Linked DNA regions of Homo sapiens. The protein of the gene in region 3 interacts with the protein of the main gene of each other region in a pairwise test. Each region holds a gene or a part of one and is shown on either strand. Other genes may lie near its edges. The genes, in order: ZMIZ2, MEIS3 and INTS4.

Region 1 (10,181 bases), on a different chromosome or scaffold from region 3:
TCAGAGAAATGAAAACTTATGTTCACATAAAAACCTGTACACAAATGTTTATAACTGCTTTATTTGCAAGAGCTATGGAATGGAAACAGCCCAGATGTCCTTCAATGGATGAAGAGTTAAATCAACGGTGGTACATCCATAGCCCGGATGCAATATAAAGGAATGAACTACTGATATATGCAACAACCTGGATGAATCTCCAGAGAATTAATGCTCGGTGGAAAAAGCCAATCCCAAGAGGCTACACGGTGTACGATTCCTTTATTTAGCATTCTTGACACACCAAAATTAGGGAAATGGAGAACAGATTGGTGATTGCCAGGGGTTAAATGTGGGGGTAAAGAGAAAGGTACTAATCTCTTCTCCATTTCTGTAATTTTGGCAGGAGGAAGGTGGGCGTGAATATAAGAAGGCAACAGGCTGGGCACGGTGGCTCACGCCTGTAATCCCAGCACTTTGGGAGGCTGAAGTGGGCAGATCATTTGAGGTCAGGAGTTCGAGACCAGCCTGGCCAACATGGTGAAACCCCAACTCTACTAAAAACATAAGAATTAGCTGGGCAAAAACTAACCGGGCGTAGTGGTGGGCGCCTGTAATCCCAGCTACTCAGGAGGCTGAGGCAGGAGAATCATTTGAACCCAGGAGGTGGAGGTTGCAGTGAGCCGATCGCACCATTGCACTCCAGCCTGGGCAGCAAGAGTGAAACTCCATCTCAAAAAAAAAAAATAGAAGGCAACAGGCTGTAACCTCTTTACTGTATCAGTGTAGTGTCCTGGTGCAATGTTGTACTAGTTTTCCAAGATGTTACCATTGGGGCAAACTGGGTAAAGGACAGAATAAATCTCTCTGTGTCATTTCTTATAATGCACATGAATCTTTAATTTTTTTTTTTTCTTTTTGAGATGGAATCTTGCTCTTTCACCGAGGCTGGAGTGCAGTGGCACGATCTAGGCTCACTGCAACCTCCACCTCCCAGGTTCAAGCGATTCTCCTGCCTCAGCCTCCTGAGTAACTGGACTACAGGTGTACACCACCATAGTCCATGCCTGGCTAATTTTTGTATTTTTAGTGGAGATGAAGTTTCGCCATGTTGGCCAGGCTGGTCTTGAACTCTTGACCTCAAGTGATCCACCCACCTCGGCCTCCCAAAGTGCTGGGATTAGAGGTGAGCACCACTGTGTCCAGCCAATAATTTCAAAATAAAAAGTTTAATTACAATACAACTGCTACCACCAGCCTTCTGTCTCCGCAGAACTGCTGTGACAATCTTTCCCCACTAGAAAGCTGGTTGGGTTGGCTGGCCACTTTGCTGTCCCAAGAACAGAGAGGGAATCTGGCAGGCAAGCAGATGTGCCCCCTCCCCCGCCCGTGGTCAAAGGCCTCAAAGTGCAGGCAGCACTCTGTGCAGCACTGCCTCATTTTAGGTCACCTAGGGCAGCAGCTCCCCAACTGCAGCACATCAAAACCAGCTCGCAGCTGGTGATGACAGGCTGCCCAGCCCCACCTGAAGTCAGTAGGATGGGCTGGGGCCTAAGCCCAGAATTTCTAACAAGTTTGCAGCTACTGCTGCTGCTGGTCCAGGAACTGTAGTTTGAGAACCTCAGATCTAGGAAATGCAGTGAGCTGGGGAGAAGGAGCACAGGGCAGGTACAAGGAGGGGAGGAGCCCACAGCAGGCTCCTATGTCACATGAGCCTGGGGAATTCCACCCCTGATGGTTCTCTGCTGTGGACAGAGACCACAAAGATTTCCAGTTCCCTCTGAGCTTACTCTTCACTGCACAGGGGGATTTCCTGCCGACCCGAACTCATGCCTCTGGTCTCCTCTCTGAGGACAGTCTCTCTGAAAAGACTTCCAGTCTCCAGGTCTGGTATCCTTGACCCTGTGCCCCTGATGATAGGATAGTGTTCTGCGTTGTGTGTGTGCAGATCCTCTTCTCATCTCCTGGCTTTGAGTCTGGGTTGGGAACAAGCCTGGAGCCTGGAATCTGGATCCCAGATCATGCAAGGCCCATGCCCACCAAGGGTCTTAGTGCCTGGCGCTTTCCTTGTAAACTAACTCCAGCTGGAAGCTAGGACCCCTTGAGAGATGGACAAGGTCAGTCTAGAGGGCCACAAGGCTTTCTCGGGGGTCAGATCACATCTTCCTCTAGACAGAGTTACAGAACTCACTACCCCAGACCTCTCTTCCCCAAATGTCCCAGAGTAGCTGCACCCCCAAGTCTCCTGGTTGACCTCCTGAGCCTTGTTCCATGCCACCTCTCTGCCTGCCTAGTCAGCTAGGAGCAGGACCAGCAAGTGGGCCCTGTGGCAGGCAACGCTTCTCAATAGGTCACACATCAGGACTCACTGTCTCCAAGATTGCAGGGTCAGGATCCAACCCAGGTGACAATGGAGTCAAAGGGTATTGAAGAAATGATGGCTGTGGAATGTTGCAGGAGCGGGGTCCTTGGTAGCAAAAAGTGGGGTACTCACATATACAGGTAGCTGAAAGTCCTGCCCCCTCTACCTGTAAGGCCACAGTACTAAAATGTCTAAGCGTGGGGCTAAGTCAGGATGCAGAGTTCATCAAAAAGTCCAGGAATAAGCAATGGCCCAGGCATGAGACATTTCAGTGAACAGCTGAAGGGACAACCTTAACCTGGCATCAGTTTACAATGTGTAAGATGGATATCTGGTAGCATCCTAGGACTGAGGACACATGACCACCTTCATGTCATCAGCCCTTGGGAGCTCAATCCCAATAATCAGGATGCTCCCCAAACATCTTAGGCCTGTCCTTCAGAAATCTACAACCGGCAACTGTCACCTGCTTGTTCTCTTCATTTACACTTCCAGCTTGTAACTATCCCCTGGGCATGACAAGGGCTAGAGGTCAGTACCTCTGGAAGTTAAGATTCCTTCACTTCTCCTGTTTCCACACTAAGCATCAAGGGATGCCCTCTGGTTCTAGCTTGCCAGAACTTGGTGGTGAGTCTGTGTCCATCCTATCCGTAATCACCACGGTCTCAGACCAAGTCACATGTTCCGTGTGTGTCCCTGTGAAATCTGCGATGACACAAATTAAAGACACCACCATGGATGTTCTGTAATACTGGAAAGAGGGTACCCTAGGGAGAAGGAGAGGCAGAACACTGCAGGGCAGAGGGTCCAGGGAATGGGAGGAGAGACACGGTAGGTGGAGGGGTAAACAAGGCACCGGGTGGGGGTGCCGCGGTGAAGGACACCTGGCACTAGGGAAGACAAGGCACCTCAGGGGAGCAGGGCATCCTCACGCCTGAGCTTCAGTATGTCCAGTTTGGAAAGGGGTGTCCCCATCAAAACTGGCAGCTGGGGGCTGGCCGCTCAGCGTCGTTCAGCCCAGGAGCGGAACAGCTCCTCCGCGAGCAGGTGACGGCCTCAGACGGCCCCCACATCGCCGTGCTGGTGGGCACGTAAGTAGGAGCGGAGGGGCGTACCATGTAGGTGAGACTGCCTGGCCCCAAAGCTAGGAACGATCAGGTTGGAGCGAAGGCCCGGCCAGCCTTCATCGCTCAGGAGAACCCCGAGCGCCGCTTACACCCCTCGGCCAGCCTCCAACAAAGACTCAGGGGAGGGCTGGATGACCCTGACGCCCACGGGGCCGAGCCTGCCCAAGACCACGACGCACGCGTGGCAGGTGCCGGCAGGTGGGCGGCAGAGCCTCTAGCCCCAGCCCAGCTGTGAACCCTACCGTGGCGCCGCAGCGGAACCGGGGCGCCCCGGGCGACCAGCTACACCTGCCTGCCCGCCCGCACCTGCCGGCCCGCACCTGCCGCACCTGCCTGCCCCCGCCGGCCCACACCTGCCTGCTGGCGGCGTTGCCAGGGGCCACCCCCAGGACCCCGCTCACCTCCGCCCGGCCTGGCCCGGCCCCTCGCCGTGGCGGCCCCCGGCCCGCGCCGCTCCATGCGCTCAGCCCGCCCTCCGCGCCGCCCGCCGCCCCGGGGCCGCCGCCACCCGCGCCATCGCGCCGCCGCCCGCTCCGAGGGCACAATGGAGCCGCCGCCGCGCCGCTCATGCATATGCATGACGCCGCGCAGCCGGCCCCGCCTCCCAGGCCAGAGCAGCAGAGCCCCGAGCCGGCGCTCGGGGCGGGGGCGGCCGCGAGCCCGAGCGGCCCAAAGCGGCAGGGTGGGGCCAGGGCCGCAGGTGGCTGGGCGGGCAGGAGACGCAGCCTGATCGCGACCTGCGCCCCCAGCCCCCTCCACACCTTTCTGAACGCGGCGTCGGCAGAGCCACTGCGCTCTTCCTGCTCGCAGTCCGCCGGGAGCGGGGCGGGGCCGGGCGGCGGAGGCGGGGCCAGGACGCCGGGGCGGGGCCGAGTGGAAGGCGGGGCCAAGGTGCCGGGGCGGGGTCGGGAGGAGGAGGCGGATCCAGAGAGCCGGGGTGGGGCCAGGGCTCGGGGCGGGCCCCGGCGGAGGAGGAAAGGAAGAGTGAGTCCTTGCCCTTCCCCCACCCGCCCCGCCCGCGCCCCGCCCGCGCCCCCCCTGCTTCCTGGGAGTCCATTGCTCTGGCCCGGCGGGCGGGGACACGACTGGGAGACAGAGAGACCCAGGGTGCCACTTTTGGGAGGGGATCTTATTAAAGGACTCCGGAAGCCCCTCGTTAAAGCAGAAAACTAAACTTAACAAGTTCGCTGTCCTCACTGCTCAGTTCTCTCTTCCCAGTGGTTCTCCTTCTGGAAAAAGTCACTATTGAGCTAGTCTAGCCTGATGGAATAGCCTCTCTGATCAGTTTCGATCTTTGAAATGCTATTATCAGCCTTTAAGTTATTCTTGACTTTTCCTACCGTAAGTTGAGGAAGACCACATTCTCTCAACTACCCATAATTAATTTTTCTTAATTGTGGTAAAATACACATAACGTAAAACTTACCATCTTAACTGTTTCCAAGTGTAGTTCTGTGGCACCAAGTACATTCACATTCTTGTGCAACCACCAACCGTCTCCAGGACTTTTTCATCTTCTCAAATGGAAACTCCATACCCAGTAAACACTAGCTCCCCATTCTTTCCTCCTCCTAGCCTTTGGCATTCACTATTCGTCTCTAAATTAGACTACTCTAAGGACATCGTATAAGTGGAATCATACATTATATGTCTTTTTGTGACAGTCTTACTTTAGTTAGCACAGTGTCCTCACTTCCATCCATGTTGTGGCATGTGTCAGAATTTCTTTCTTTCTTTCTTTCTTTCTTTCTTTCTTTCTTTCTTTCTTTCTTTCCTTTCTCTCTCTCTTTCTTTCTTTCTTTCTTTCCTTCCTTCTTTCCTTCCTTCTTCCCTCCCCTTCCCTTCCCTTCTTTTTTTTGACGGAGTCTCACTCTGTCGCCAGGCTGGAGTGCAGTGGTGCAATCTCGGCTCACTGCAACCTCCACCTCCCAGGTTCAAGCGATTCCCCTGCCTCAGCCTCCTGAGTAGCTGAGACTACAGGGGCACGCCACCACGCCTGGCTAATTTTTTTGTGTGTGTGTTTTAGTAGAGACGGGGTTCATCATGTTGGCCAGGATGGAATCGATCTCCTGACCTCGTGATCCGCCTGCCTGGGCCTCCCAAAGTGTTGGGATTACAGGCGTGAGCCACGGCGCCCAGCCCCTTCTTTCTTATGGCTGAATAATATTCCATTGTATGCATATTCCACATTTAAGTTATCCATTCATCTATCAATGGATACTCCACAATTAATTTTTGACATTGTTGAAATTTCTTCCCTGAAGGCCGCCTCTGAACTCTGTGCTCTATTTCTTTTGGGAATCATTCGTTCATTGAACAAATATGGCAGGCCTGCTGTACAACAGTCCCTGGTCTGGGGTCTGTGAACACTGGTCTGTCCCCAGGAACCAGGAGAATAAGGCCCCTCCATCCATACAGCAAGCATGTTAGAGGGGACAAACAGAAGGAAATGAGTTAACAGGTAACAGTGTGTCTGTCAGAAAGAGTGTTAGGAAGAAAACTAAATCAGGGCCAGAGAATGGGGAGGGAGTGATGAGGTATGAGGGACGGATTCTCTGTGGAGCTGGCCCTGAAGAAGAGACCCAAATGAAGGGGGAGGCAGGCACCAGGGGACCCTGACCATTCCTCTGTCTCGGAAGAGGCTGCATGTATGGGGGAGTTGCAGGCAGGTTTGTGGAGGATGCTGGAAGTGGCCACGCCAAGCATCCCAGGTGCCCCCAGGGCAGGCATCTCTCTCACCTCCTAACTGCTTCAATAATTCCTGCCCTGCTCCCCTGGGAAAGGCCACCTGGTGTCCACTCCTTTCTAGGGAATGTTTTCATTTTCTACTATATGATGAATTGTTAAGAAAGTCTTCCTTGAGGCCGGGCACAGTGGCTCACGCCTGTAATCCTAGCACTTTTGGAGGCCAAGATGGGTGGATCACCTGAGATCAGGAGTTCGAGACCAGCCTGGCCAACATGGTGAAACCCTGTCTCTACTAAAAAATACAAAAATTAGCCAGGCATGGTGGCGTGAAACCCTACTCTACTAAAAATACAAAAATTAGCCAGGTGTGGTGGCATGCACCTGTATTCCCAGCTATTCGGGAGGCGGAGGCAGGAGAATCGCTTGAACCCGAGAGGCAGAGGTTGCAGTGAGCTGAGATCGCACCACTGCACTCCACCGTGGGTGACAGAGCGAGACTCTATCCCCCCACCATCACCCCCCCAAAAAAAAAAGTTGCCTGGCGCGGTGGCTCACGCCTGTAATCCCAGCACTTTGGGAGGCCGAGGCAGGCAGATCACGTGAGGTCAGGAGTTCGAGACCAGCCTGGCCAACATGGTGAAACCCTGTCTCTACTAAAAGTACAAAAATTAGCCGGGCATGGTGGTGTGTACCTGTAGTCCCAGCTACTCGGGAGGCTGAGGCAGGAGAATTGCTGAACCCGGGAGGTGGAGGTTGCAGTGAGCCGAGATCACACCACTGCACTCCAGCCTGGACGACAGAGTGAGATTCTGTCTCAAAAAAAAAAAAAAAAGTCTTCCTCATTTACTAGAATAAAAAAACTGCCTTATTGAAGCTTTTCCTCTACAAGTGCATAAAATAAGAATCATCACTTTGTTATTTGACAGCTCTTCAAATATTAAAAGCAACTTCTCAATCCCCCAGTCTTCTGTTGGAGGAATAATGCTCCCAGTTCCTTAAGTGTTAACAGTAACACAATTTTCAGATCCTGTACCAACTGGCCACTCTCCTTTAGACAGGCACCAGTTAGACAATATCGCTTTTAAAATGTGACACCAGAAAGGGAACCTGATATCCTAAATGTAATCAGCCTAGCCCAGCGTCCAGGGGCTCCTGCGAGTCCACAGTCTCCTACAGTTGGTGTGGCCTTAACCTGAATTTGGTTTTTAACCAGTTTGGGTACCCCCAGTTACTATGACTCTTGACTTGCAAAACTAACTTTAAAAAGAAAAAGGTAGGCCGGGCGCAGTGGCTCACGCCTGTAATCCCAGCACTTTGGGAGGCCGAGGTGGGCGGATCACGAGGTCAGGAGATCGAGACCATCCTGGCTAACATGGTGAAACCCTGTCTCTACTAAAAATACAAAACATTAGCCAGGCATGGTGGCGGGCCCTGTAGCCACAGCTACCTGGGAGGCTGAGGCAGGAGAATGGCGTGAACCCAGGAGGTGGAGCTTGCAGTCAGCGAAGATCACGCCACTGCACTCCAGCCTGGGCGACAGAGCGAGACTCCATCTCAAAAAAAAAAAAAAAAGAGAAAGGTGCTGCTGCTCCTTTGCATACAAGCGGTATATTCTCATTGTGGAAAATACAGAGAAATGTTCAAAATACCTTAAAACTGTTCAGAGATAATTCCAGTCAATTGTTTGCTCTGTTTTTTTCCCAGATGGTTCTCTTTGCATATCTTGATGTTGTGGAGAATATGGCATATGTATGATTTTGCATTCTTATTTTTTCACATTATCAACATAAACATTTCCCTTACAAGCATTATCTGTGTTTCTCACAAAATAAATACTTCAAAGATTTATTTACAAGGATGTTTGCTGTGACATTAGGATATTGAAAAATTACACACAAGCTGTATTCATTCATTCAACAATTTTCTGTTGAGCTTCTACTGTGTGCCAGATACCACTCTCAGTGCTGGAAACATGGCAGTAAGTAAAACTGATGAAAATCTGCATTGTCGTGGAGCTTGTGTTAGCAAGCTAATAGTTACATCCTAGTAGGTAATAGTTAAGTAGAACGCACCCACAGGTTGGAAATCATGTTTTTGAAGAATATTTAATGGTATGAGCAGACAGTCACAATTTGCTAACTGAAAACATCATACAAAGTTGCACAATGCCAACATCTTTGTTTCCTGAAAAGCCTTTACGGAGCACACAGTCTTCCCACAGGCCTCTAATTCATTATACGGGGAGAAAGGAACCTTTATAATAACATTGGTCAGACACTACCTTAGCAAAATGACCAAGGTCAACAACACCAACAGTGGGACCATTTGACATCCTGGGTACCTGATGTGATACTCAGAGAAAAGATACAGACTCCTTCAAGTAGAATTTCCAGCCAGAAATGTTCAACCTGAATCTGATCATGAAAAAATAAGACAGATCTACACAAAGGCTCAGTCTCCAGCACTGTCTGTGACTCTCAGAGAACGTCAGGCCTGGGGAAATGGTCTCATTTCTCGGTAAGCAGGTCTGTGCAAGCCTGCCCCTAAAGTCGGAGGAAGCTAAGAGGTTAAAGAAAGAGGCTGACAAATTCAGTTTCTCCAAAAGAAACATTTAATAGGAACTCATGAGCTGAAGCCCTGTCTGTGTATCAGGGGCTTACATGGGATAGGGAAAGGGTGACCCTGAAGGGATGTATAGGACAATTGAGGTATGATAACATCAAGACTGTTTTGACCTAAGGGCAGGAATTACAATAAGGCCTCTTACACAAGGAACAATAGATAAACTGGAAATCTTAGAGGCCTTCCCAGAACAGAGGTTAATCAGAGGTCATCATGGCAGATCGGCATCAAAGATGGACTTGCTTTAGCCTCCACAGGTCTGGATTAGGGGAGACTAGAGACAAGAGAAGAAAATGCCATGCTCCTTAACTAGACTGGGGCAGGGACACTATTGGGACAATTGGGGAAATTTGATTATAGCCTAGAGGGTAATTGCATTGAATGGGCTGGGCATGATGGCTCATGCCTGTAATCCCAGCACTTTGGGAGGCCGAGGCGGGCAGATCACTTGAGGTCAGGAGTTCGAGACCAGTCTGGCCAACATGGTGAAACCCCATCTCTACTAAAAATACAGAATTAGCTGGGCGTGGTGGCAGGGTCCTGTAATCCCAGCTACTCAGGAGGCTGAGGCAGGAGAATCGTTTGAACCCGGGAGGTGGAGGTTGCAGTGAGCTGAGATTGCACCACTGCATTCCAGCCTGGGCAACAGAGTGAGATTCTGTCCTAAAAATAATAATAATAAATAAATAAATTGCATTGAATGAATGTTTAATAGCCCACTGGGAGTCATGTGTCAGCAATTAAGGCTCATAAGGTTAAAACAAAACAACAAAGTGTGTGTGTGTGTGTGTGTGTGTGTGTGTGTGTGTAGACAGAAATAAAGAAACATGGCACAGTGTTTGTAGGGGCACTAAAATCTAAAAAAGTATTTAGAAAGGCATTAAAAAAAAAAAAGGACAGGAAGGGGCCAGGTGCGGTGGCTCACGGCTGTAATCCCAGCACTTTGGGAGGCCAAGGTGGATGGATCGCCTGAGCTCAGGAGTTCAAGACCACCCTAGGCAACATGGTGAAACCCCGTCTCTACTAACATACAAAAAATTAGCCAGGTGTGGTGGCACGCACCTGTAGTCCCAGCTACTCAGGAGGCTGAGGCACAAGAATCACTTGAGCCTGGGAGGCAGAGGTTGCAGTGAGCTGAGATCACACCATTGCACTCCAGCTTGGGCCACCGAGTGAGACTCCGTCTCAAAAAAAAAAAAAAAAGACAGGAAGGAAATGTGCCAAACCATGAATAAGAATGCATGAATGCATTCTTTGTAGAATCAGGGACTGGCACAGTGGCTTACACGTATAATCCAGCACTTTGGGAGGCTGAGGCTGGAGGATCGGTCAAGCCTAGGAGTTTGAGACCAGCCTGGGCAACGTAGTGAGACTCCATCTCTACAAAAAATTTTTCAAAAATA
Region 2 (10,240 bases), on a different chromosome or scaffold from region 3:
GGTATACGGCTCCTAGAACAGAGCCTGGGACACAGCACTTACTGAAGGGCTCCATAAGGTCATAAAAGTGGCAGCCCATGCTCTCATCCTGTGCCTGTTCTGCTTTTTGTGACACTCATCCCTTTCTTCCTTTTTTGAGATGGAGTCTCGCTCTGTCACCCAGGCTGGAGTGCAGTGGCATGATCTCAGCTCACTGCAACCTCCACCTTTTGGGTTCAAGGGATTCTCCTGCTTCAGTTTGCCAAGTAGCTGGGACTACAGGCGCCCGCCACCATGCCCGGCTAATTTTTATATTTCAGTAGAGATGGGGTTTCACCATGTTGCCCAGGCTGTGTCCTCAAGTGATTTGCCTCCCAAAATGCTGGGATCACAGGCGTGAGCCACCACTCCTGGCCTATCCTAAGATTTTGTTCATTCACTCGTCTGCTCAGCGGATATTTTCTTTCTTTTTTTCGGGGGGCAGAGGGGGACGGAATCTCGCTCTGTTGTCCAGGCTGGAGTGCAGTGGTATGATCTCAGCTCACTGCAACCTCTACCACCTCCTGGGTTCAAGTGATTCTCCTGCCTCAGCCTGCTGAGTAGCTGGGATTACAGGCATGTGCCACCACACCTGGCTAATTTTTTGTATTTTAGTAGAGACGGGGTTTCGCTATGTTGGCCAGGCTGGTCTTGAACTCCTGACCTCAAGTGATCCTCCCACCTCGGCCTCTCAAAGTGCTGGGATTACAGGCGTGAGCCACCGCGCCCGGCTGAGTGTGGCATATCTTCTGTGCATCCTTTATGTGTGTGTATGTTTCCGAGTGTGCATGTGCGTATTTGCATGTGTGTCTGTTTGTAGCGATGTGTGTCTCTGTGCAAATCTCTCCATCCAGGCCCACCCCAAAGGGACTCCGGGGGTCCAGGAACACATTTTTCACGGGGTCCTTCAAAAACCCACACACGTGCCCCTTGGGCCTTGAGCACAGAGCAGCAGTGTACGTGGTTGGGGGTGCCCGAGAGACTCAGAGGTCCAAGGATGGCTCTGGGGAGAGGATGGCAAAGGGGGCGCTTGGATGGCGGAGGGGCTGAGGGGCACTTGGGAGAGGGGACTGGAAGGCAGTGAGCCAAGACGAAGCAGCCCGGGTCTGAAGGAAAGAGCTCACCTGGCCTCTGAAGGAGAAGGGAGGGGGAGGCCCCGAAGATGTGGGTTTCCAGTGGGGAAGGGGACAGAGAGAGACAAGGTCTGAACAAGACAGAGACAGAAAGAATGGCTGGGCGCGGTGGCTCATACCTGTAACCCCAGCACTTTGGGAAGTGGAGGTGGGTGGATCACCTGAGGTCAGGAGTTCAAGACCAGCCAGGCCAACATGGTGAAACTCCGTCTCTACTAAAAATACAAAAAGTAGCCGGGCGTGGTAGCGCATGCCTGTAATCCCAGCTACTCAGGGGGCTGAGGCAGGAGAATCGCTTGAACCCAGGAGGTGGAGGTTGCAGTGAGCTGAGATCCCAGCATTGCACTCCAGCCTGGTGTGGGCAAGAAAGTGAGACTCCCTCTCAAAAAAAAAAAAAAAAAAAAAAAAAAAAGGTACCAGAGGGAGAGAGACAGAGCCAAACAGGGGAGCGATCCACACTCTGCCTTGGTGGTCTCTCTCTCTGGGGGGTGGAGGGGACAGAGATCTGGAAAACTGAGAACCCCAAGGGACTCACACTGGTTTCTGAGCCTCAGTTTTCCTAGTTACAAAGGACAGCCTCTGCCTGTGATGGGCGCTGACACACGTGGCACAGTTCCCCATGTGTCCCTCGAAATACCTCCACCATCAGCACAATCATCCTACGAGACAGGCACGGCCGCTCTCCCCATTCTCCAGATGTGGAAACCGGGGCCCAGCCAGGTGAAGTCGTAACCCGAGGTGCCATAGCTGTTGCGTTCCAGAGGCGAGATTCAAACCCACGTCCGTCCGGAAGCCTTGGAAGTGAGGGTGTGCCTGCCTAACCTGCTCATTTCCCATGGGACAGAGGACGTGATTGGACAGCCACAGCTGGTGAAGTGACGCAGGCGTGGCCCTGAGTCTTCATTCTCCCCTGCACACACATCTCTTGCAGGAATTCTGCAGCTCCCTCTAGTTAAGAGGTGGAGTCTTGGCCAGGCCTGGTGGCTCGTTTGTAATCCCAGCACTCTGGGAGGCTCCCAAGTAGCTGAAACTGCAGGCGTGCACCACCATGCCCAAGCAATTCGTTTGCTTGCTTCGTAGAGATGGGGTCTCACTATGTTGCCAGGCTGGTCTTGAACTCCTGGCCTTAAGTGATCCACTCGCCTTGGCCTCCCAAAGGGTTGGGATTATAGGCGTGAGCCATCGTGCTTGCAGCCGGCCAATCAGTATTCTTATTCGTGATTTACGAGCTTCAAATTGGTAAGAATTTGAAATCTTGGGATAGACACAAGAACTCCAGTTGGTGGCTCCGTGTTTTTAAGACTTTATCATTAAAAAAAAGAAGAAATTAGAGAAGGGAGGTAGGGGGGACAGGAGAGTGAAGGAATCTCTCCAAAATGTCGGATCCGGGCGACCCTCCTTCCCTGACTGCCCAGCCACCCCGTCCCTTCTCTGTCCTGGCGGCGAGGCCCTAGCCGCCATCTTCTGGGGACCAAGGCCCAGGAGCCCAGCTCGGGTCCCAGGCAGAGGTGAAGGCAGAAGTGGGGCTCAGGGCCTGGAGGCCTTGCCGGTGTCCTTGAGAGCCCTTGGATGGGCACTCAGGCCCCCATGTCCCAGCAGGGCCCTAGGGAGGTAGGCATTGAGCAGAGGGGCCTTTGGAGGTGGGGTCCTGAAGCTGGAGGACCAGGCGGGAACCAGAGGCAGGTGTGAGGCTGGGGGTCACAGCCGGAGGCTGGGTCTGTGGAGAGGGGAGGAGAGGCCAAGTCAGGAGCGGGCAGGGGGCCTGGCCCCACCCCAGCCCATCTGTGCAGGCCTCATCAGCCCCAATGTGAGGGGGACACAGAGAGAGTGGCTGGCGGGGAATGGCACAGGGATGTGGGAGGGTCACAGAGAGAAGAGACGCAGTGACGAGAAAGAGGGAGACAGAGAATCAGAGTGGAGGTGAGGGAGGGAGAGACCTACAGACAGAGACAGAGAACAAGGAGAGAGACAGGCAGAGTAGGACAGAGACAGACCTGGAGGGAGTCAGAGAGAACGACATGGGAAGAGAGAGAAGAAGTCATGAAGAAATAGACGAAATGGAGAGAGAGAAAGAGAGACAGGAGGCTGGGCGCGGTGACTCATGCCTGTAACCCCAACACTTTGGGAGGCAGAGGCAGGGGGATCGCTTGAGCCCAGGAGTTCGAGACCAGCCTGGGGAACAAAGCGAGACCCGTCTCTACAAAAATAAAAATAAAAATTAGCCAGGTATGGTGGCGCACGCCTGTAGTCTCAGCCACTTGGGAGGCTGAGGCCAGAGGATCGCTTAACCTGGGGAGGTCGAGGCTACAGTGAGCCATGATCAGGAGTGGAGAGACAGAAAAGGAGACAGAAAGGAGCAGAGAAAAGAGCCCACTGGGCAGCCAGGCAGTGGGATGAGAAGACCCCTCCATCACTACTGACCCCAAAGGTCCCCTGACACTCACCCCAGACCATCCCTACCCACACTTGGCCATGAAAGAGCTGAGTCGCCCACTGCCCTACCTGGCCTGGATACGCCTGCCCATCTCTCTCCCAGGCTCGGCCTCCAGCACCCGCCTCCATGCATAAGCCCTGTGCAGGCCTCCACTCTCATCCCCAGGGCTTTTCTGCTGGCCCTGAATTCATTAGCCACCTGTCCGGCCGCCTGCCTCAACCCAGTCCAAAGAGAACTTCCTCCTTGTGTGTAGGGGGCTGGGGCTGTCTCACAGCCACGAGATTTCCAAGCTCTCCTGGCCTTGGCACGTGCTATTCCCTCTGCAGATGCTCCTCTCCTGCTTCACTCCTCCCATTCTGCTGGTCTCACCTCCAAAGTCCTCTCCTCCAGGCAGCCCTCCTTGAATCCTCTAGTCTGGGTCAGATGCCCCCTCCTCCAGGAAGCCCTCTCTAAACACCTCCCCCCATCCCAGGTCCAACACCCGCCCCCTGTGAGCTCCTCCAGTTCCTTGGCTTCACCATCCCAGCCCTGCCCGTTCTGGGGCATCACCATCTGGGGATGGGTCTGTCCCCTTCACTAGACTTTGTGCCCCATGAGGGCAGGGCTGAGGCTGTCATGGTCACTGTTGTGTCCCCAACATTACCCAGCACAGGGCTGGGCACAGAGGGGCTCAGGGGATGGATGGACAGATGGATGCTAAACTAAGGAGTTAGGACTTTGTCCAGATGGCACTAGGGAGCCACAAATGGTTTAATCCAGAGAGAGTCAAACTCTGATCTGGGCTTTGGAAACTCTAGGCTGCCTCCCTACCCTGGGCCTTTGCACATGCTGTTCCCTCTGCTTTTGTGAGCAGGGTAGACCTGTGCAAGTGACCTCTTCTCTCTGAACCTCAGTCTTCTTATCTATGAAATTAAAATTGTTAATAGTCTCCCCTTTCGGGATCGTTGTAAGGACTAAATGAGAAGATGCTCTAAAGTGCCGCCATCATACCAGGCCACAGAAGACTCAAGGCCTGGGAAAGTCAAATAATGCCCCCCTTCCACATTACTCCCTACTCTGCCCAGTGGACTCCTATTCATCCTTCAGTGCCCCATCCAGAGGCCACTTCCTCTAGGAAATCTTCCCTGATACCCCAGAGATAGCTGATGACTCCCTCCTATGGGGAAACTACGTTTTATTGTTTGAACTGTTACACTGGATTGTCACTGGGGTTGCCAACTTCCCCACAAGACCAGAATCTTCTCAAGATCCAGACCCTACCTGAGGCATGTCAGGATGGAGTGAGGGCTCAATTTTTTTTTTTTTTTTTTTTTAGATGGAGTCTCACTTTATTGCCCAGGTTGATCTTGGCTCACTGTAACCTCCGCCTCCTGGGTTCAAGTGATTCTCCTGCCTCAGCCTCCAGAGTAGCTGGGACTATGGGTACATGCCACCACACCTGGCTAATTTTTGTATTTTTAGTAGAGACAGGGTTTTACCATGTTGGCCAGGCTGGTCTCGAACTTCTGACCTCAGGTGATCCACCTGCCTCAGCCTCCTAAAGTGCTGGGATTACAGGCGTGAGCTACCGTGCCCAGCCAAGGGCTCAGTTTATGTTTGGAGATGTATCATAGATGAATGGGTGTATGTAGGTATGGATGGATGGATGGATAGTGGGTGGTGGGTGGGTGGATATATGGATAATGGGATGTGTGGGTGGATGGATGGGTGAGTTGATGGGTAGGTGGGTGGAAGCCTGGGTAGGGAGGTGGGTGAATGCACAGATAAATGGGTAGATGTGTGGGTGGTTGGTCAGTGTGGAGGTAGATGGATGAGTGGGTTGGCGAGTGGAGAGATGAATGGAGTGAGTGGGTGAATGTGTGGTCAGATGGGTAATGAGTGGGTAGGTGGGTGGACTAGGTTTGGATGGATGGATTGCGGGTGAATGAGTAATTGAGTAACGGATGGATAAAGATATGGATGGGTGAGTGAGTGGGTAGATGGATGGATACATGGAGGAGGAGGATGGATGGATGGATGGATGGATGGACGGACGGACAGATGGATGAATATCTTCCCATCAAGCCTCAGAGAACCCACAGTACAGGGACCCAGGCTGACCCACTACTCTGGAAGTGCCCACTCTTGGAGTCCTGAGGTCTAATGGAGGTTTGAGAATTGCACAATCCCCAGCCCTTAGACCCTCACACCTCTCCTGCATCAGCCTCTATAGATAATGCCATTCTCCTTCCAAGTTCAAACTCATCCCCACTGATCCTGGAAGACAAAAAAAAAGGAGGGTAAGTGCGTCTTTCAGAGACACCCCCAGATGCCTCTAAGTCTCCCTCACCCCTTCCTACACCAGGGGATCCCTCTACCAGGATAGACTGAGTCATAAGAAGGTGCTGGCCCTTTAAGAAAAAGTGGAGCCTTCCGAGGTATTGGGCTTGAAGTCTGGAAGAAATGAGGTTGTAAGGAAAAGATGGGGGACCAGGAAATCTGCCTTGGCATCACCTGCTTCTCACTAGGCAAGTGACACACTGTATTCCGCTTGAATTGAATCTCAGGTGGGCATCTTTGTTTTACAGGTGGGTCATGGTGCGCAGGGGCGGGGCCTAGCTAAGGGGGCGAGGCTTACCCGGAGGCCGGACGGCCACGTGTGGCTGCGTCTCGGTATAGCCCCCGATGGGCTGGCCCTCTGGGCTGAAGGCTGCACCCTGCCCTGCGAAGGGGGTTCAGAGGTGCAGGCTGAGCCCCAGGAAGCCCGGGACCCGGCTTTGACGCCCTCCTAAGAACCCCAGGCTCTCCGTCCCCGCCTTCCCCCTGTACCTGTGCGGTTGGATTGATCGATCATAGGTTGCACGATGCGTCTCCGGGCGTTAATGAACCTGGGAGGCGGTCATGGAAACGGAGGGGAATGAAAAGAGGGAGTGGGAGAGAGGCCAAGACGAACACAGAGCGGGCCGGAGGACAGCGGCGGGGGAGGCAGAGCGGGGCGAGCAGGGGCAGTGGCTCTGCGGGGCTCGGGGCCTCCGTCAGCACCGCGGACAGCGCCCGGGCTCTCGCCCCGGGCCGGCCCGCGGGCCCTCCTGGGCCACTCACCAGTTGTTGACTTGCAGGATGGTGAGCCCCGTGTCCTGCGCCAGCTGTTTCTTCTGCTCCTCCGAGGGGTACGGGTGCTGCAGCCACCAGCAAGAGTCACTCTGCCTGCCTGGCCGGCCGCAGTCTGAACCCCAAGGTCTGGCCCACCGGGGTCCGGGGGATGGGGAGCCCAGGCCCAGGCAGACGTCTGGGAGAACCGGCGCTTCTGAGCGTCTCTGCGCTCCCCAGGATGGAGACCAAGGGAGCCTCAGGCTTGGGGCAATTACATGCCTGCCAGCCCCCGCCTGTTCCAGCAATTAGAGGTTAACTGGCCAGCTCTGATTAGAGAGACTGTGTTGGGGGAGGGGGCTCCTGTGGCGTGGGGGAGGGGCTTCACTGGCGTCGGGGAGGGAAGCAAAGCCCAGGCCCTCCCTCTCTGAATCTGTCAGAGTCTCTGTGTGGCCCTCTCCCTATCCATTTATTTATTTATTTATTTGAGATGGAGTCTTGCTCTGTCGCCAGGCTGGAATGCAGTGGCGCGATCTCTGCTCACCGCAAACTCCGCCTCCGGGGTTCAAGGGATTCCCCGCCTCAGCCTCCCCAGTAGCTGGGACTACAGGTGCGCGCCACCATGCCCGACTAATTTTTTGTATTTTAGTAGAGATAGGGTTTTACCATGTTGGCCAGGATGGTCTCGATCTCCTGACCTCGTGATCCGCCCGCCTCGGCCTCCCAAAGTGTTGGGATTACAGGCATAAGCCACCGCACCCAGCCCTCCCTATCCATTTCTTTCTTTCTCTTTCTCTCTTTTTTTTAAACAGGGTCTCACTCTGTCACTCAGGCTGGAGTGCAGTGGCGCCTTCATGGCTCACTGCAGCCTCAATCTCCCTGGCTCAAGCAATCCTCCGGCCTCAGCCTCCTGAGTAGCTGGGATCACAGGTGTGTGCCACCATGCCTGGCTAATTTTTTTTTTTAGAGATGGGGTCTTGCTATGTTGCCCAGGCTGGTCTCGAACTCCTGGGCTCAAGTGATCCTCCTGCCATGGCCTCCGAAAGTGCTGGGATTACAGGCATGAGCCACTGTGTCTGGCCCTCCATTTCTCTCTTTGTGGCTCTCACATTCTCTCTCTGACTCACTATCTCTGTGTGTGTGTGTTTCTGTCTGTATCTCTCTCTCTCTCTGGGATTCAGTCCGTCCCTGCCTCCGAGTTTCTGTCTGTCTCTGTCCCTCTGTGACTCGGCCTCTCCCTGTCTCCATCTTGCTCTGACTTGGTCCTCCCCGAATCTCTGTGTCTCTCTGTTTTAGCCTCTTCCTGGCTCTATTTTTCTCCTCTGTCCTTGAAGCAGTATGGTGCGGTGGTTAAGGCCAGACTGCCTGCATTTGAATCCACTTCTGGCTGTGTGACCTTAGGCAAGTCTCCTAACCTCTCTGTTCCTCAGTCTCCTCCTCACCTGTTAAATGGAGATAATAGTAGCCCCTCCCTCCGAGGGTACACTGGGTGGATGGTGGGCAGGTGGATGATTGATGCGCGGGTTAATGGACAGTTTTCGGGGAGGACTTAGTGAGTTAAGTGTCCTGAGCGGCACCTGCACTCAGGTGACACTCAGTGCTGCTGGCTCCTGTCACAATTCTCCACCTCCATGAGAGTCTCGAAAAATTTCCTGCCGTCTTTCTCCCACTTCTGGGTTTCTCTGGGGTTTCGGTCTCTGTGGTCCACCCTTCTCCCTCTCTCCATTCCCACCCTGCACCTGGGCAGCAGGGCTCTCACCGAGAGGTGCTGGAACAACCAGGCTCGCATGATGTTGGTGGCCACCTTGGGGAAGATCCCCCTCTTCTTGTTTCGCCGTCGCTCCTGGTCCAAGTCCTCATCTTCTCCACCAGAACTGGGAGAGGCCACGCTGGTGTCCAGCCCGTCTCCTGAGGGAAGGCAGGCATGCTGTGTGTGTGGGTAGTGAAGAGTGGAGGACCAGAGGGCCCCAGAACTCTCCCCCAAGACAACACTCCACACCCCAGCCATCTCTGCCCCTCTACAAGTCTTACTTGCGATCTAACTTCAATCCTCTGGTTGACTCCCATGTTTCCCTTCCACCTCCCAAGATTCTCACCTTGGTCACTGGAGTTGTCCCCACTCTGGGAGGCCAGGCCCCCACTGGATGGACCTGGGGTCCCCAAATGTACAGACCCACTATCCTCATGGTCTCGAATCCACATATTATTCTAGAAAACAAGAGTTAGAAGTTAGTGCCAAGGCGGCCGGGCGCAGTGGCTCACGCCTGTAATCCCAGCACTTTGGGAGGCCAAGGCAGGCAGATCACAAGGTCAAGAGATCAAGACCATCATGGCTAACATGGTGAAACCCCGTCTCTACTAAAAATACAAAAAATTAGCCGGGTGTGGTGGCATGCACCTGTAGTCCTAGCTACTCAGGAGGCTGAGGCAGGAGAATCGCTTGAACCCGGGAGGCAGAGGTTGCAGTGAGCCGAGATTGCGCCACTGCACTCCAGCCTGGGTGACAGAGCAAGACTCCGTGTCAAAAAAAAAAAAAAAGTTAGTGCCAAGGCTTTGGGCATGGACTCTGGAGCTAGGACTCCTGGATGGGAAGCCAGTCCCTGCCTCCTTCCTAGCTGTGTGATCTTGGGCAGGTCACTTCCCCACTCTGAGCCTCCGTTTCCTTAACTGGAAAATGAAGGACAGGACCAGGCACGGTGGCTCACGCCTGTAATGCCAGCACTTTTGGAGGCTGAGGCAGGCAGATCACCTGAGGTCGGGCATTTGAGACCAGCCTGGCCAACATGGTGAAACCCCATCTCTACTAAAAATACAAAAACCAGGCTGGCTTGGGCACAGTGGCTCACACCTATAATCCCAGCACTTTGGGAGGCCGAGGCAGGCGGATCACCTGAGGTCAGGAGTTGAAGACCAGCCTGGCCGACATGGTGAAACTTTGTCTCTACCAAAAATACAAAAATTAGCTGGGCATGATGGTGGGTTCCTGTAATCCCAGCTACTCGGGAGGCTGAGGCGGGAGAATCGCTTGAACCCGGGAGGGGGAGGTTGCAGTGAGCCAAGATTGTGCCACTGCACTCCAGCCTGGCCGGGGTGACAAAGTGAGACTACGTCTCAAAAAAAAAAAAAAAAGAAAAAGGAAAAGAAGGGCCGGGCGCGATGGCTCATGCCTGTAATCCCATCACTGTGGGAGGCCCAGGCGGGTAGATCACAAGGTCAGGAGATCGAGACCATCCTGGCTAACATGGTGAAACCCCGTCTCTACTAAAAATACAAAAAATTAGCTGGGCGTGGTGGTGGGCGCCTGTAGTCCCAGCTACTCGGGAGGCTGAGGCAGGAGAATGGCATGAACCTGGGAGGCAGAACTTGCAGTGAGCCGAGATCACACCAATGCACTCCAGCCTGGGTGACAGAGTGAGACTCCGTCTCAAAAAAAAGAAAAGGAAAATGAAGGACAATAATAGTCCTGACAGTGTGTGGCCAGTATTCAATGATGAGTTTGTCTACACAGGGGCTCAAACAAGATGACCTTACACAGGTCTATGGCATCTTATCTAAAATCCTTGGGGCAAGAAGTGTCTCAGGATTC
Region 3 (10,336 bases):
GATGATCCACCCGCCTTGGCCTCCCAAAATGCTTAGATTACAGGTATGAGCCACCGCACCTGGCCTCATTTTGTATTTTCTATAAAGTTTAAATTTTCTAACCATATATATATATACACATATATATACATATACATATACACATATATATACATATATATACACACATATATATACACATATACATACATATATACATATATATACATATATACATATATACACATATATATACACATATATATATATACACACATATATATAAATGTTCCTCTAAATAAACACATATTACTCCAAATAAAGTGATTTGGAGTCACCCAAGCAGGGATGAGTTAATGCAAATAGAGAGATTGGAAGAGTACCTGAGCCACAGCATTCACGAAGTGTTTGCTATTATTATTATGATCTATTTTTAAATTTTCTTCTATATAACTCTAGGTTTTAAAAATAGTAAAGGTTTTATTTTTAAAAAATAAGCACTTGTGGAGAATCATAGCTATATGTAATAGTTAAAATATAACAATTTAGGCTGGGTGTGGTGGCTCATGCCTGTAATCCCAGCACTTTGGGAGGCCGAGGCAGGCAGATCACGAGGTCAGGAGATCAAGACCATCCTGGCTAACACGGTGAAACCCTGTCTCTACTAAAAATACAAAAAATTAGCCGGGCGTGGTGGCAGGCGCCTGTAGTCCCAGCTACTCGGGAGGCTGAGGCAGGAGAATGGAGTGAACCTGGGAGGTGGAGCTTGCAGTGAGCCGAGATCGTGCCACTGCACTTCAGCCTGGGCGACAGAGCAAGACTCCGTCTCAAAAAGTAATAATAATAAAAATAAATAAATAAATATATATATATAACAATTTAAATTCTTGATCTAAAATATAATCTATTGTTCCAGGTTCCTTTCTTCTTGCCTAATATCAATAACCCAGGGACACCAAAAAAAATGAATCATCTTAAAAGGTAAAGGATACAAAAGCAAAAGTATAAAACAATGGCAAAGAGCCCAAGAGAGAAAGAGAATGAACAAACAAGTTTTCAGAGAATATATGGACTGCTTTCTACTATTTAATAACCACAAAGCACAAAAAATAAAAAGCCAAAAACAAGCTGCACACAGTGGTGCTCACCTGTAATCCCAGTGACTTGGGAGGCTGAGCCAGGAGGATGGCTTAAGCCCAGGAGTTTGAGACCGCCCTGGGCAACATAACAAGACCCCCATCTCAAAGGAAAACATGAACAAAAATAACCCTACCCCATGCAAAATAAAAACAAGGACAACAGATGTTTTCAACATACCCTCAAGGCAGGAACAAGATGAGAAAGACTGTCTCGGAGGTAGGCATAGTGCCTGAAGGTGTGATCTGAGAACAATGCTGGCATTGTTGGACAGGTTTTAGCAGCATTGAAAATAAGTACCAAAACTGCAATATCTGATAGATGACTGGGTTAAGTAAACTTGGAAGTATAAAAGGTTGGCCAGATTCTGGCACTCTCACTTTCCACCTCCAAAATCTCCATCAAGAGACTATGATTTTCTAATAATCAAAGAAATGCAAATACAAACAACAAAATACATTCCCCTACTCCACCCACACCCCCAATTACCAAAGGTTTTTAAAAATGCCAGAGACTGCCAAGAATACAAAAAATGGAAATGATTTTGCCTATAAAGTAAGCAACTATATTGCCTATCAAAGTACATACTGGACAGGCATGGTGGCTCACGCCTGTAATCCCAACACTTTGGGAGGCTGAGGTGGGTGGATCACTTGAGGTCAGGAGTTTGAGACCAGCCTGGGCAACAAGGTAAAACCCCGTCTCTACTAAAAATACAAAAATTAGCCGGGAGTGGTGGCAGGCACCTGTAATCCCAGCTACTTGGGAGGCTGAGCCAGGAGAATCATTTGAATCCGGGAGGCGGAGGTTGCAGTGAGCTGGGGTGGTGCCACTGCACTCCAGCCCAAGCAACAGGTTAGGAATTTGAGACCAGCCTAGCCAACATGGTGATACCTCATCTCTACTAAAAATACAAAAATTAGCTGGGTGTGGTAGCGGGCGCCTATAATCCCAGCTACTCAGGAGACTGAGGCAGGAGAATTGTTTGAACCCGGGAGGCAGAGGTTTCAGTGAGCCGAGATCAGGCCACTGCACTCCAGCCTGGGTGACAGAATGAGACTCTGTCTTCAAAAAAAAAAAAAAAAAAGAAAGAAAAGCAAAGAAAAGAAAATTCAGACTACCCTAGCTATACTGCAGAAGGAGATGCCAAAGCTGCCTGCCAACACATCAGGGCCCATCCTAAGCACAGAGGATACAAGCTGGATCATCCATGTCTGGTTCAGCTGTGTCAAAAAATGGGTGGGTGCTCAGAAGCTCTGGCACCAAGGGAAGCACCAGGGTTGGATGCCGACTTCCCAGAAACTTCAAGCACCTGAAACAAACAAATAAGAATGCACATCAACAAATTAGTAAAGTTAGTCCTTTGAAAAGTACTAGGAACTGGAATCAGAAAACCTGAACTGGAATTGGAAATTCTCAACCATATACTTTTGCTAACTCTATGACTTCAGATAAGTCACCCAGTTATTCTGGAACTCGGTTAATTCATCTAAAAAAACTGGTTATTATAAAGATAAAAGAACTGGTTATTTAACCAAGAGCCATTTCCCCCATCTTTCTTCCTGAGAGAGCCCTGATTTTACTCAGGTATCAGGCAGGCAGCAAAGTGCTCGGAAAAGGCAGGTCCAGCCCAAGAGCTGAACCACTATTGGTCTAAACCCATCATGGCAATCCCATTCCCATTTTCCAGTGACTGGTTTGCTGGTGGGCAAGTAAGCCAGTTCTAGACAATGGAGCACGAGAGTATGCTGGCTGGGGAGCTTCTCAGGGATGTTTTTGCAAATCAAAAGAGCAATGCATGAAAGGGAATGACCCTTCCTTTCTGTCTTGAGATATTATCTTATGAGGCAGCCATCTTACAACTATGAGAAGAAAGCCGGCCGGGTGTGGTGGCTCACGCCTATAATCCCAACACTTTGCGAGGCCGAAGTGGCTGGATCAGGAGGTCAAGAGATCAAGACCATCCTGGCCAACATGGTGAAACCCCATCTCTGCTAAAAATACAAAAATTAGCTGGGCATGGTGGCACGGGCCTGTAGTCCCAGCTACTCGGGAGGCTGAGGCAGGAGAATCACTTGAACCTGGAAGGCGGAGGTTCAGTGAGCCAATATTATGCCAATGCACTCCACCCTGGCGATAAAGAGAGACTCTGTCTCAAAAAAAAAAAAAAAAAAAAAGCCAAGAGAACTGCAGAGAAACCAAAGAGAGCCCTGGTAACCTGTTGAATGACGAATCCTGAAACCAACCTTCTGACCACTTGTTATGAAAAAACAGACTTATTGGCTAAGATATTTTTAATCAGATTGTCTTTTTTATTTGTGGGCAAAAACATTCTGATTGATATCCTGGGTGAAGTCCTGAAATCACAGATCTGTCTGAAACTAAGTAGCCTTATGCAAGTAAATTTTTTCATCTACAAAATGAGATTAAAAGTCATTACTTCATAGAGTTGCTATACGCATTAAATAACTAACATAAAGTACTTAGCAAAGTGTCTGTCACATAGTAAGAACTCAATGTTAGCTATTATAACTACATGAGGGCCCTTTATAAACTATAAGGAACTATAAAAGCAAGGTAATTATATATTTTTATTATTGTTTATGGTTTTTTTTTTTTTTTTGAGACTGAGTCTTGCTCTGCTGCCCAGGCTGGCATGCAGTGGCACAATCTCGGCTCACTGCAACCTCTGCTTCCAGGGTTCAAGCAATTCTCCTGCCTTCGCCTCCCAAGTATCTGGGATTACAGGCGTGTGCCACTAGGCCCGGCAGATTTTTGCATTTTTAGTAGAGATGAGGTTTCACCATGTTGGCCAGGGTGGTCTTGAACTCCTGACCTCAGGTGATCCACCCGCCCCAGCCTCCCAAAGTGCTGGGATTATAGGCGTGAGCCACTGCACCCAGCCAATTTAGTGCACCTTCTAAACCAGAACTTAATGAATAAAAAATAATAAGGCCAGGCACAGTGGCTCATGCCTGTAATCCCAGCACTTTGGGAGGCCGGGGCAGGGGGATCACCTGAGGTCAGGAGTTCAAGACCAGCCTAACCAACATGGTAAAACCCCATCTCTACTAAAAAAAAAAACAAAAATTAGTTGGGGTATGGTGGCATGCAACCTATAATCCCAGTTACTCGAGAGGCTGAGGCAGGAGAATCGCTTGAACCCAGGAGGCAGAAGTTGCAGTGAGCTGAGATCACGCCACTGCATTCTAGTCAGAGTGACAGAGCGAGACTCCGTCTCAAAAAAAAAAAGTAACAAAACAAAACACTATATAGGAGAAAGAGGAAATCTAATTAATTTATTTCTATACTTGTAACAGCTACCACAAGGGTTGGTGCATAGTCAGCACACAGCAGGCACATAATATTTGCTAGGTGGATAGATGCACAAATTAGTAAGTAATCTAAAATGTGATACTCAGCTTAGGAATCAGATTCCTGAGAGTTCGGTTAAGTTGAATCAGGTTTCTAAAGTAAAGGCAAAATTCAGGGCCGTACTATCCTCAATCTATAAGGACGGAACAAATGTCAGCATTATACATTTACCACATTATGGGACTCAGTGAGTAAATGGGCAAAAAAGTCATTACTTCCATATGGAGTCCCTATCAGTAGGGTACTTGGTTAAATTTTTCAGCAGCTCCACCAATGCAAGATGAATCCCTTCTTTGGTTGAAACATTAGTACAGCATAAGAGTTCATGAAGAGCCTCTCGAATATCTCTGGATGAATCCTTTTAAAAAAAAAGTAATAATAACAGTAGTTACTGTTGGTTAGCAGACTCAGCCTCTATCTACCATCCCCTTCTACCCAGCCACCTTCCCATCTAGGGTGGCCATGTAACAAAGTATGTGGAAGTTTTTTAGCTGAAATTCCTGAAATATCTTTCATTTTATTGATAAAGGACCAGAGGCAGTAGCTTTATCCCCTTTGTTCTTTAACCTTCCTTTTCCATCCTATCTGGAACTCAATCATGATGCTGAAGGTACAAGAGCCTTTTTGCAACTAGGAAAAAGGACAGGCTAAGAAGAAAGGCTAAGAGAGAGGCTGGGAATGGCCAGTTAGCAGAACACTCAGAACACACATACTTATTAAGTTTGCCATCTTATACAGGCACAGTTTGTGGCATCCCAAAACAATTACAACAGTAACATCAAAGATCACTGATCACAGATCACTGTAACAGATGTAATAATGAAAAAGTTTGAAATATTGCAAGAATTACCAAAATGTGACACAGACATAAAGTGAGCACATGCTATTGGAAAAATGGCACCGATAGACTTGCTCAATGCATGGTTGCCGCAATCTCTCAATTTATTAAAAAAACACAATATCTGCAAAGCCCAATAAAGAGAGGTATACCTGTATGTGTTAAATGGAGGAGTGAGGGAAAAAGTCAATCTATCTGAAGTGAATTTCAAGATTTCAAGAATGAGAAATATTAAAAGAGAGGCAAATCGAAATGTCACTCCTATCCATAAAATTCTGCAACAGTTTTCCATAATGTTAGAATAAAATCCAGACATCTTAAAATGGCCTACAAGGCTCTCCACCTGTCCCTAATCCCCTCTCAGACTTCATCTCATGCCACATTTCTACTTTCTCACTGTGGTTCACTCCTACTGGCTTTCTCTCTATTCTGCAAACACAACAAAGCTCACTTGTGTTTTAGAGCCTTTCCACTAGCTGTTGCCTCTACCTGAAGTTATTCTCCCAGTCTTCACATAGCTAGCTTCTGTTTATCATTCAAGACTCAACTTGAACATCATCTCCTCAGAAAGTCTTTACTAACCACTCAAATTACAGAGAAATTCCCCATTCCTCAATCATACTGTTTATCTTCTGCAAAACATTTATCACCATCTGAAATCATTTTGTTTGTTTACTCCACCTCTCTTTAGAATATAAGTTTTATGACAGCAGGGATCCTGCCTGTTTTGATATCCCTATATTTCTAATACATAGACAGTGCTTGTTGAATAAAGAAGTGAATTTTTCTAGGCAGGGTAGGATCTTGACATAGCAGGAAAAAAAAAAGGCAAATTCCAGCTGGAAGGGTCAGCAAGGTAAGGCTCAAAGCAATGAAGCCCAGTGACACAGAAAATATAAGGGAGAAGTACACAGCAGGGTGGAAGAATAGTCTACTGTAAGTTTATATTGGTCTGAACTCCTGAAAAGAATTAAAAGGCAAGGATTCTTTGTGAGTTATATACATAAGTACTCACAAATAAGCATACCTGTGAACAATTCTGTACATCAAAACATAGCTTGGAACATAGCTCAGCTACTCAGCAAACACTTACCGAGCACCTAATTGTGCCAGACACTGCTGCAAGACATTGGTAATAAAAAAATGAAGAGTCAGCCGGGCACGGTGGCTCACACCATAATCCCAGCACTTTGGGAGGCCAAGGTGGGTGGATCACTTGAGGTCAGGAGTTCGAGACCAGCCTGGCCAATATGGTGAAACACGATCTCTACTAAAAAAAAAAATATATACAAAAATTAGTATTGTGGTGCGTGCCTGTAATCCCAGCTGCTCGGGAGACTGAGGCAGGAGAATTGCTTGAACCCAGGAGGTGAAGGTTGCAGTAAGCCAAGATCGTACCACCGCACTCCACCCTGGGGAACAGAGCGAGACTCAGCCTCAAAAAAAAAAAAAAAGGAAAGGAAAGGAAAGGAAAAAGGAAAGGAAAGGAAAAGAAAAGAAAAGTCAAGACACCTTGAGGAGCTCACAGTCTTATGAAATAGAGAATTACTGAAAAATGCTACAGCAGTATACACAGGGTGCTATGGGAATAGAGTGGTGGCATTTAGCCCACCCAGTGCTGGGAGTAACAGTTAGGGAAGGCTTCCTGGATATGTTACCTAATATAGGCTGTGGGAATAAGTGGACGTCTCCTGGGTTAAAGTGGCAGTTTTGCAAACTGTGGGGGAAAATTACATTGAAGGTAAAATTGTGAGGAAAAGCAATATGTGTAGGAAAGTGACTTCAGCATAAAGTTCAAGGTGAGGAATGGTGGAAAAGAAAGCTAAAAAGGAAAGGAGTGGCTAGGCTATGTATGAGGCCACCCATGAAGAACCGCACATAGAATGTAAACTTATTTTTAGGAAAAAATACATGAAAAAATTATAAAGATTTATAATTCAGGAAAAATCTCAGTAGAAGTGCTAAGCAGCTGAGAGAATGGTAGGGACCTTCAAAACCAAAGCACCAGCTATTCTTTAAAGTACGCAGTAGAAATCTGTTACAAGTGTTCTAAAAACTAAGCACCTAATCACTATCCCTTTCACATCTGAACCCCATCTTCCCCAAAAAAGGAAACCAGAGGACAAACCCCATTTATGAATACTCTGAAGAACTTGAGTAGTTGCAATTAAAATCCAGACATTTTAGAAAAATAATACAAGAACCACCTAGAGCTGTATGGCCTGGGAAGCAACTCTCTGTTTACATTCTGGTTCAGCCACTAACTCAAACAACTTATTTTTTTCTCTATAAAATTCCCAGGGTAGAATGAATCAATCCCTAAGATCACTTGCTGCTATAACAGCCTATGATTCACTACAAGAATAAAATCAAATTAAAGGTTGAAAAGAACTCTTCATTATTTAGCCCCTACCTTATCTATAGCCACGTCCTCCACTCTTCCATCTCTTCAACTCTACACTATCATTATAATAAACTCTTTTTAGTTCCTTGAATATATCATATTCTGTCTTATCTCTGCATCTTTAGACATTGCTCCCTCTGTCTGGTACCCTTTCATCCTACCACCAGTGTCACTTCTCCTTTAAAAAAGATGCACTTCAGCCTGAGTGACAGAGTGAGACCCTGTCTCAAAAGAAGAAGGCAAAAAAAAGCCTAGTTAAGTCCTACTCCTCCTTCAAGTGTCCACTACAGCACTTCCTCCTTCTTCCCAACCTCACCTCAGCCAATTCAGGTTAGACACTATGTATTCCCTAGGCATCCTATCCTTTCTTGATCACAGAAAGACCAAGCTTATTCAAATTTCCTGTTTCACAGTCAATTTCTTCCATCTTAGGGAAGGGGTATGGTGAGAAAACAGAACTGTGCTCCCTGATATAGTGTTCTGTCACCAATGCCTAGCACAATACCTGATTTTAACAGGGGGGGGTGAGGGATGAAGAAATGAGTAACAAATTAGAAACACTCACCTCTAGCACAGCCAGGACAGTGTCAAGCTGATCTTCTCGGAGGGTGATGTTGTTAGAGATTTTTCTCATGGTATGTATAGACTGCAGACGTACTTCCTCAATTTCATCGTTGAACATGTCAACTAGGAAATCAAGGCACTTCTCAGCAAAAGAGGGTGAAGACTGGGCCAACATGCAGAGGGCCTCCACAGCAGCAATACGAACCTCTAGAAAAAAGAACAAATGAAATTGCACATCAGGCTGGGCACAGTGGCTCACGCCTGTAATCCCAGCACTTTGGGAGGCCAAGGGAGGCAGATCACTTGAGCCCGCCTATGCAATGTGGTAAAACTCTGTTTCTACCAAAAATATTAAAAAATTAGCTGGGTGTGGTAGCGTGCGCCTGTTGTCTCAGCTACTTGGGAGGCTGAGAAGGGAGGATCACTTGAACCTGGGAGGCAGAAATTACAGTTAGCCAAGGTCATGCCACTGCACTCCAGCCTGGTGACAGAATGAGACCCTATCTCAAAACAAAACACACAAAAAACAAATTAGCCAAGTGTGGTGGCACACGCCTATAGTCCCATCTACTTGGGAGGCTGAGGCAGGAAGATCACTTGTGCCCAGGAGTTTGAGCCTGCAGTGAGCCATGATCGTGCCACTACACTCCATCCTGGTGACAGAGTGGGCCCCTGTCTCAAAAAAAAAAAAAACTCCAAAAACAAAAAAACAAAAACTGCACATCAGCCAGGTGCAGTGCCATACACCAAAGTCCCAGCTACTCAGGAAGCTGAGGTGGGAGGATCATTTGAGCTCAGGAGTTCAAGGCTGGCCTGAGCAACACACTGAAGCCCCATATTTTATATATATATATAAAGTAACTCATATCAAATTAAGAGCCATGGGATAAGTCCAAGATGGATTCCTTCTCCTTCAGGCTGTCTTCTATTCTCTACTCCTCTCATTCTATAAACTCTCCCTGGGAGATCTCTATGCCCACAGTTTCACATACCACCCACCTTAACGTCGATCTAAGAACATGGACTTTAGTATCACAAGGACTATGGCTTAAATCTGACACCACATATATGTGATGAAGTCACATGTCTGTCTACATTAACTTCTTGAAAATTAAATTGTCTTACTTATCTCAGTATTCTGACCACAGTACTTTTTAAAAAGTCAGTTAGTAAATAATGTTATCATTAAGATTAAAGTAGACTAAATATCATTGTTCGAATTTTAGAGGTAAGATTCAGCAATGTGGATTCACTTGCCTCAAAGTGAATGAGGGCAGGAATAGGACCAATACTCAGGTCTGTTGATTGTAGGCTAAAATCATATAGTAGTTAAGGATACACGCTTGGAATGATAGAGGTCTCAGAGCAAACTGTAGTGAATGATCCCTCCACTAAGTTGGAGGGTGATCTTGAATAAGTAACTCAACTTCCTGGCACCTCAAATTTCTCGCCTGGTAAGTGGAGATAATACTCATTTCCTTACAGAGTTGTTAGGACTAAATGAGATAATACAGGTAAACCACATAGGGACCCTGCCTGGCATATTTTAAGGGCTCAGTAAGTATCACCTAGGGTATAGGTTTGGGTTCTGTAAAGTACCCTGAAAACAGAGGCATGTTTTCCACCCCTTGGCATGCTCAGAACATGTAAACAATAAAGCCACTGATCCGAGGAAGCCCTTTCTTGATTCACTAATAAGTGGGTCCTGAACACGTATTATATGCTAGGTGCAGTACTAAGGGCTAGGATACAAAGATGAGAAATGAGTAAGACACAGAAAATGCTCATAAGACTTCTATACATGGTTGTTTTTTTCTAGTGATTCCCATATGCTTCTGTAACAAAATGGACTATTCCAAAACAAAATAAAACAAAAAGTACCTAAAGTTGTGGTTAAAACTCACAAACACAATTTCCTCTTTGTATAAAGAAAGGTTTTATAGACATGTTAAAAGTAGAGTTACTACATTAAAGACAGATGATTCAGGTTTTTCTTGGTAGTTATGAATTCCTCCTTTTTATCAGAAGAGAACAATTTT

The links.
Region 1: the proteins of INTS4 (region 3) and ZMIZ2 interact in binary tests that used the Homo sapiens proteins (3 or more experiments, as listed by UniProt).
Region 2: the proteins of INTS4 (region 3) and MEIS3 interact in binary tests that used the Homo sapiens proteins (3 or more experiments, as listed by UniProt).

The regions. Positions count from the first base shown.
Region 1 is NC_000007.14:44,742,680-44,752,860, reverse strand, and holds the start of ZMIZ2 (zinc finger MIZ domain-containing protein 2), read right to left. Parts: upstream 4,015-10,181; 5' UTR 3,870-4,014; intron 3,047-3,869; exon of another isoform or gene 2,881-3,046; intron 1,956-2,880; exon of another isoform or gene 1,770-1,955; intron 1-1,769. UniProt on the Homo sapiens protein: Increases ligand-dependent transcriptional activity of AR and other nuclear hormone receptors.
Region 2 is NC_000019.10:47,400,686-47,410,925, forward strand, and holds the end of MEIS3 (homeobox protein Meis3), read right to left. Parts: intron 8,863-10,240; coding exon 8,751-8,862; intron 8,563-8,750; coding exon 8,414-8,562; intron 6,951-8,413; coding exon of another isoform or gene 6,744-6,950; coding exon 6,667-6,743; intron 6,453-6,666; coding exon 6,394-6,452; intron 6,287-6,393; coding exon 6,203-6,286; intron 5,842-6,202; coding exon 5,792-5,841; 3' UTR 5,775-5,791; exon of another isoform or gene 4,743-5,774; intron 2,869-4,742; coding exon of another isoform or gene 2,729-2,868; 3' UTR 2,439-2,728; downstream 1-2,438. UniProt on the Homo sapiens protein: Transcriptional regulator which directly modulates PDPK1 expression, thus promoting survival of pancreatic beta-cells. Also regulates expression of NDFIP1, BNIP3, and CCNG1.
Region 3 is NC_000011.10:77,920,044-77,930,379, forward strand, and holds part of INTS4 (integrator complex subunit 4), read right to left. Parts: intron 8,505-10,336; coding exon 8,299-8,504; intron 4,850-8,298; coding exon 4,707-4,849; intron 4,625-4,706; coding exon of another isoform or gene 4,603-4,624; exon of another isoform or gene 3,408-4,602; intron 2,429-3,407; coding exon 2,313-2,428; intron 1,431-2,312; coding exon 1,297-1,430; intron 1-1,296. UniProt on the Homo sapiens protein: Component of the integrator complex, a multiprotein complex that terminates RNA polymerase II (Pol II) transcription in the promoter-proximal region of genes.